2 linked regions of the Homo sapiens genome follow. The protein of the gene in region 1 purifies or fractionates together with the protein of each later gene. This does not show direct contact. Each region holds a gene or a part of one and is shown on either strand. Other genes may lie near its edges. The genes, in order: ZNF106 and PPP2R2B.

The links.
Region 2: the proteins of ZNF106 (region 1) and PPP2R2B purify together in Homo sapiens (co-immunoprecipitation; one large-scale study listed by IntAct). This does not show direct contact.

The regions. Positions count from the first base shown.
Region 1 is NC_000015.10:42,442,427-42,446,247, forward strand, and holds part of ZNF106 (zinc finger protein 106), read right to left. Parts: intron 2,556-3,821; coding exon 2,401-2,555; intron 1,837-2,400; coding exon 1,776-1,836; intron 1-1,775. UniProt on the Homo sapiens protein: RNA-binding protein. Specifically binds to 5'-GGGGCC-3' sequence repeats in RNA. Essential for maintenance of peripheral motor neuron and skeletal muscle function.
Region 2 is NC_000005.10:146,872,125-146,875,945, reverse strand, and holds part of PPP2R2B (serine/threonine-protein phosphatase 2A 55 kDa regulatory subunit B beta isoform), read left to right. Parts: intron 1-3,821. UniProt on the Homo sapiens protein: The B regulatory subunit might modulate substrate selectivity and catalytic activity, and might also direct the localization of the catalytic enzyme to a particular subcellular compartment.

The sequences.
Region 1 (3,821 bases):
ACATACATACATAGAAATGCAAAAATGTTATCTGAAAAGTCATTTGTGTCTGAGCTAATTTGTATTTTTAAACATTAGAAAAGAATTATAAATAAGTATATTAGTATAGTCCCTCATAATTCTCCGAAATATGGAGAATATAATCTCTACAACCACCAAGGATACAGAGAGAATAGGCATCAACATTCTTTTTTTTTTTTTTTTTTTTGAGATAGGGTCTCGCTTTGTCACCCAGGCTGCAGTGCAGTGGTGCAAACACTGCTCACTGCAGCCTTGACCTCCTGGACTCAAGCAATTCTCCTGCCTCAGCCTCCCAAGCAGCTGGGATTATAGGCACATGCCACTATGCCCAGCTATTATTGTTATTATTTTTTTGAGACAGAGTCTCACTCTGTCACCCAGGCTGGAGTGCAGTGGCGCAATCTCGGCTCACTGCAACCTCCACCTCCCGGGTCCAAGCGATTCTCCTGCCTCAGCGTCCTGAGTAGCTGGGATTACAGGAGCACGCCACCATGCCCAGCTAATTTTTGTATTTTTAGTAGAGATGGGGTTTCACCATGTTGGTCAGGCTGGAATTATTATTATTACTAATAATAATTATCAATAATTTTTGTATTTATTTGTAGAGACAGGGTTTCACCACATTGCCCAGGCTGGTCTCAAACTTCTGGGCTCAAGGAATCCACCTGCCTCAGACTCCCAAAGTGCTGGGATTACAGGCATGAGGCACTGTGCCTAGCAACATTCCAATTTTTCAAATTTTAAATGACTTATCCAAAGTTATATAGGCTACTAATGGAAGGGAGAAGATTTGAACCCAGGCCTTTTGATTCCTAATCAAAACTCTTTCCATAACATATTGTCTGTTGCTAAACATTTTTGGGATGCACAGTTTACAGACCTTTCTATAGAAGGAAGAAACTGGCCAGGCGTGGTGGTTCAGGCCTGTAATCCCAACCATTTGGGAGGTCAAGTTAGGAGGACTGCTTGAGCCCAGGAGTTTGGGACTATCCTGGGAAACACTGGGAGATTCCATCTCTATAAAAGCATTTTTTAATTTTTATAACTTTTTATAATTTTATATAACTTTTTATAACCTTTAAATTTTTACAATTTAAATCATAATTTTATAAAATTAAAAGTTAGAAATTTTAATAACCAGGCATGGTGACACACGTCTGTAGTCCCAGCTACTGGGGGGAGTGAGGTGGGAAAATTGCTTGAGCCCAGGAGGTCAAGGCTGCAGTGAGCCATGATCGTGCCACTGCGCTCCAGCCTGAGTGACAGAGCAAGACCCTGTCTCAAAAAAACAAAAAAAAAGGATGAAACCAAGGAGACAGGAGAGAAATAACATGACCTTTTCATGACTACTTTTCATCCCCTCAAAGAGAACAAAAAGGCCTGGTGCAGTGGCTCATGCCTGTAATCCCAGAACTTTGGGAGGCTGAGGCAGGCGGATCACCTGAGGTCAGGAGTTCGAGACCAGTCTGGCCAACATGGCGAACCCTGTAACCCTGTCTCTACTAAAAATACAAAAATTAGCTGGGGGTGGGGTGGGCACCTGTAATTCCAGCTAATCAAATGCTGAGGCACGAGTATCACTTGAACCTGGGAGGCAGAGGTTGCAGTGAGCAGAGATTGCACCACTGCACTCCAGCCTGGGAAATAGAGCAAGACTCTGTCTCCAAAAAAAAAAAAAAAAAAAAAAAAAAGCAGAGAAAACAAAAAAGTAACACGCTATAGAGGGCCCAATCCATCAGATGCCCTCTGAATACCTTGTAATCCCTGTAGAATCTGTATTCTATGGGTCCTCAGTGCACTCATCTCCATAGTTATCTAAAAATAAAGTATTTTATTAAGCATTTTGAAATCCAACTTGTAAGGTCCTCTAGGTCTCCCCATTTTTCTTCTATGTCCTGACCAAAAATCAGAGTGTCTTGACTGCTCTGTGACCCAGCCAGCCGCAGGTTTTCTCCAGCAGGCTTGAACCCTACCTGGGGCCTTGAAGATTCCCAGGCACTGATAAAAGTATCTAGGTTGTTGCCCAAAACACTGAAAGAAATTGGCCCTGGCCCTGAGCCAAATTCCTTAAACCCTCATATAAACTCCACATCCCGCCCCCTGGCTGTGGATATACCTAGGGAGAACACCCTTGTGGGGACTGCTGCAGCCTACTCTGTAAGTAAGCTCTCCTAATAAATGCTTTGGACTCATCACCCTGGCATTTAGTGCTTCTTTCTTTGGAATCCTAACTGTCCCCCATTAGGCACAGTCTGGGGCACTTCCCTTGTGGAAACTCCCCTGCCATTGCTTTTGGGGTGACTCCAGACATGGGTTTGGCAGCACAAAACAAGATTTCGGAGATGATCCATTTTTATTAAATCCTCCACATGCTGTTACCTGCTGCTTGAGCATAAGTAGCCTCTGAACTTCCACATAAGCTGTCTGAAGGGCTGCACGGGCTTGCAGAAGATTGTTATCCATGCACTGCAATGACTTACTAAGTTCTTCCTCCCTTAAAGAAATATTCAGCAGCTGGTCAACCTGAGAACGTTCTGCCAAAAGAAATCATAAGGTTCAGGTTAATACGAGAGATTTCCCTCTCATCACACAGCTCAGAAGACTAAACTATACCCATTATTTAGGATAAGACTTTATGTTCTCCTCAGTAGGTCATTGGAAATTCATAAAACATTTAGTCAAGCACAATGATATCAAAGCTAGGAACCAAAAGTGAGAACTGCTAAGATGGAGGTATCTCATAAGCTCCAGTGTACCATCACATCATTCTGTCTCATCTAATCACCGCCTTCTACCACCACCTTTCCAGGTGAAATCTGTCCCATGCAAACCACCTGTTCTAGGACTCGTTTCCCATTCTTCCTTTATCTACCACTGTCTTCACACAGGACTTTTGCTTAGATTGGACTCTAGACCTAGACTGCTTGCACTCTCTTTCCAATCCATATTTAGTCTGTTAGTTGACTTAAAAATTGTTTTTATTAGAGAAGACTTCCTGAAGAAAATACAGCTTTGAAATAGTACATTTAACTTAGTTTGAATAAAATGTTCTGTGTATGTATTTACCATCATTGTGTTTGTCTGTTTCCTATTCAATATGCCAGGACCTCTCCCTTAAGCTCCACACCCACATATCCAACTACTGACTATGATATTTCTAGCTAGGTTATCTCAAAGGTCCTTTAAGTCAAAGAATCCCTGAGGGAATTCATCATCTTTCTCTATTCTCAATCTGCTCCTCTCATGGAGTTTTCTAGCTCTACATATGCTCCATCTGGTTGGCCCAGCCAGAAATGTGGGTTGTCCTTGACTCCTCCCTTATCCATCACATCCACTCACTCAAGCCTCATCCAATCACTTCCAGGACTAGCCCTTATACTAGAACTGGGTTAGAGTCAAGGAAAAGCAAGAATCACAGAAATACATCAATGAGGGAGCAATGTTAATAACTTCTTTCCATAATTCACTTTAGAAAAGCAACCAAGGAAGGGAGTGTGGAGGTGGGGCAGCGGGGAAGCAACCAAGATGCCTCAAAAACTGAAAGTGAGAGAAATGGCTATACATGACCAAGAGGGCCAACACATTTCATCCCACTGAAAAGGCTCAAGGAAACTTCCTGGCTTTATATTGTCCAAGTGGTATACTAACCTTGGCTTACAAGTCTATGTGACATCATATATTTCTTCTACAGTTGTTAACTGGATGTATTAGGAAATCAAACTTTTCTTTCCTCTTAAGCAAGGCAACAAAAATGTCCAAAAAAAGTAAATGGACAATCAGTGTTTGATAAATGACAAGCT
Region 2 (3,821 bases), on another chromosome or scaffold:
AGTTTTGACCTATTCGTTTCAGGGAAGATTCATGCAATTTTGTTGCCAGAGGGGGAAGAGTCCCTGTTCTTCCAATGAATTCCTTAAGAAGTGTTAGTATACCTTGAAAAAGCACCAGATCAAAAGACTTTTTAAAAATTCTCCTCACTGGGGACTTGCCCCACAAGTTTTCTTCCCCCTTATTAACTTATACCCTCTTACTGGGTGGGGAATTAGCTTCTAGTCCTTCCATAGATCTTGCTTTTCTGTTTCCTTTACTATTTCTACATTTTCCTCCTACCTGCTCAGTTATGTCAGATTGTTCTTTTTTTTCCTCCAAAATATCTCCTTCACATGTATTTCTGAATTTTTCTTCTGTTTGCTCAGATCATTCCACATTGCAGTGTTCTATTTAAAGCTGAAAGGTTTTTGCTGTGTAGTTAGTGTGAAGGACTCTAAACTCAATTTGCATTGTAAGTGGTGACTGCAGGCAAGTTCATCCAGCTAAGAGCAATGCAAATGCTAAAGGACACTTTCACCCAAGCTCCCCTCTCTCAGTCTCTTTCTCTCTCTCTGTCTTTCTCAAAAGAATGCATGGTGTGCATTTAATAAATAAATTTCCTAGGACTTTTTTTTAATTCTGAGCATGAAAATTACCACCCTCCCCTACCTTTCCTCCTCTTTTAAAGTTAACATCTTTGAGCATCTTCTATGTTCCAAGCACTGTGCTGAGCTCTTTATGTATAGCATTTCAATATATCTAAACCCTGTTAAATGGATGTTGTCATTTCCATTTTCAAAGAAGGAAACTGATGCAACTGAGGTCTGAAGATGTTACTAATTTGCCAAAAGTCACACATTCAATGGAAAACCTTGTCTTCAAACTCAAGCCAGTGTCTGAAGGCCAGGTTCTCCCACTAGGAAATTCTGCACTACTTCATTTTCCTTTAACCATCAGCTCTTATTCTGGGAAAGATTGCAATGGTTTTATCTCAGTGTATAAGCTATATTTCCATCAGGCATAAAATCCTTTGCAGGGAAAATTTGAAGTGTGTGTATGGGGTTATATAGAGGAAGGGCCTTGGGTAGGGTTGAAATTTCCCACAAAAATAAAGTCAACACAATGGTTTGATTTTTTTTTTCAGATATGGAACCCCAGGTTTCCTAACCAGGGATTCATCTCTCAAATCTCTCTATATGTGGGTTTCCTGCTATATTTTTAGGCTTCTGTTACAGCCAAGTAAAACCCTATCTCCATTATAGCAGTCTGTGAGTTTTCTAGATTAATCTTCCTACTTTCAAATGGGGCCACAGATAGACCAAATATTCTACATAGATGGGGTGTTTTAAAATAACTGCTCTGTTCTCAGTTTCCTTAGCTGGAAAGTGGGAATAACAATAGAACCTATGCCAAAGAAAAATTATTTGATGCAGAGAAAGCACTCAAGCACTCGGGATATGCCTAATACAAAGCCCACCCTTAATTCATTATAGCTGTTATTGTTACTTAATGTACTTCCTGGTTATATTCTGGCAACAAGTGGGTTCCACCTTCCCTCAGAAGCCTTTTTAAAAAACTGTCTTGTTTATACATATTAAAGGAAGAACAAGTTTACTATTCCAAGTAGCTCCTTTCAATTATTGATTCATTCTGCCTTTAATTCCTTCAACAAATACTGACGTTTTGCAGAGGTGATACGGGATGTTCCAATACAGACGTGGTCTCTGTCCTCAGGGATCTTTCAATCTAGCAAAGGAGATAGTATGAGACAAATAATTTTGCAAATAAATATATAGTTACCAATTGTGATAAGTGATATTTAGGAAAGGCACAAGATGCCTTGGGGTCATAAGGTGGAAAGGTGGATCTAATTTAGATCGGGAGTTCAAGGACAGCCTCTCAGACAGCTGAAACTGAGAACTAAAGGATGAATTTGCAATTAACAAGACCTGAAAGCATTTTAGGTAGAAGGGACAATAGGTACAAAAGCCCAGAGAGATAAAATAGCCTAACTGATTCAAGGAATGGAAAGATGACTATGGCTAGGAACAGGGAGAAGAGTGATAAAAATGAGAATGGAGTCTGCAGTTCATTTTGAAATGTACCAGAAGCAAGAAAGATTAATGCTAAGAGAGAGGGATGGGTAAATGGATAGACATATGATAAAGCAAGTATAAAATGTTAGTCACTGGCCAGCCATGGTGGTGTATGCCTGTAATCCCAGCTACTCAGGAGGCTGAGGCAGGAAATCGCATGAACCCAGGAGGCAGAGGTTGCAGTGAGCCGAGGTCGCGACACCGCACTCCAGTCTGGTGACAGAGCGAGACTCCATCTCAAAAAAAAAGTTAATAACTAAATTGAGGTGGTGGGTCTATGGATAATCACTGTAATTTTTTTTCCACTTTGCAGTCTGTTTGAATTTTCATAATAAAATGTTGGGGGAAAAAAAGACTGGAGAAGTATTCAGGGACCAGATCATATCAAGCCTTGTTGACCACAAGGAGTTTGGACTCTATCCAAAGATGAATGGAAAGCCATTAAGGAAAAGGGAAACATGATCAGATTTGTTTTTCTAGAAGTTTAATCTGGCTGCTGTGTAGGATGGGGTTAGAGAGCCAGGCATGTAATGAAAAAGAATGAAAGTTGGGAGATAATTAGGAGGTCATGGTGTGCTCCAGGATGGTGGCATCAGTAGAGATGGAGAGAATTAGATGGATTTAAGATACGTAATAGAGAAAGATTGCATTGCACTTACTTACTATGATTGGGTGCAGATGGAGAAGGTGATGTCAAGGACAACTCCCAGAATTTTGCCATGAAAATGGATGCATAATGGGGCGCATCACTAAAAGCGGAAACAGACTGAAAACTGATTAGTTTGAGAAGACAGTGAGACATCTAGTTTCACAGTGAGACTTGCAAGTAGACAATTGGATTTCTGGGTCTGAAGCTCAAGAGAAAGACCTGGACTAGATAATAAATTTGAGATTAAACATCACCAGCATATTAAAGGTACTTAAAACTGTATGAATAGATGAGATGCCTCAGATAAGAACATTTCAGGGCAAAATTTGAACCAATGAGTGAGAAAGTACAAGGAAGTGGATCTTGGCTTGGTATGAAGAAATTGTAGCAAAAAAGTACCTCACAATAGAATAGGGCCTTGGTAAGCATAAATAACCACACACTGATATTATTCAAGTAATACTATAATATATGGCCATTTCTCAGCAATGTGGTAGGATAAGAAGAGTCCAGTCTTGGATGAGTTGAGTTTAGAACGTCTCCAGGTTTGAGATCTGAGTGATTTGTGAAATACATTAGCTTTTTAGGGCCACAGAGAGTAAAAGTGAGGAAGTAAAGATTCCTCCTCCATCCCCCATTCCAAATAAGCTCAAGAAAGGGGAAACTTATAATGAATAAAGCTGGGAAGGTACATGAAAATGGCTTTTGATATGAAGATGCTGGGAAGGCATTGAAAAAATAAAAGGGGGTAGTGTCATATGATGGAGAGCTGCCTCATAGTTCCTTAAGTTGCTTTGGTATTTGTATGCAAATGCCAGATCAGAATGCTGTTTCCAATGCATATGGATGAATGTTTGAGCTCTCTGCTGTTCTCAGAGAAACCTGAAATGCGAGGTGAGAAGTAGCTGCCTTACACTATTGTAAATGACCTTTCTGGGGATGGGAAATGTTCTGCTACTAAACATAATAACCAGAATGCATTGAAAATCACTAGCAAGTATTCATTATTAGCATCCAGGTCCCCAGGGGCAATCCCAAGCCCTTTATGAGTGCTGGTCAGAAATGTACCAATGATCCTGGGGTGAATAATATTAGG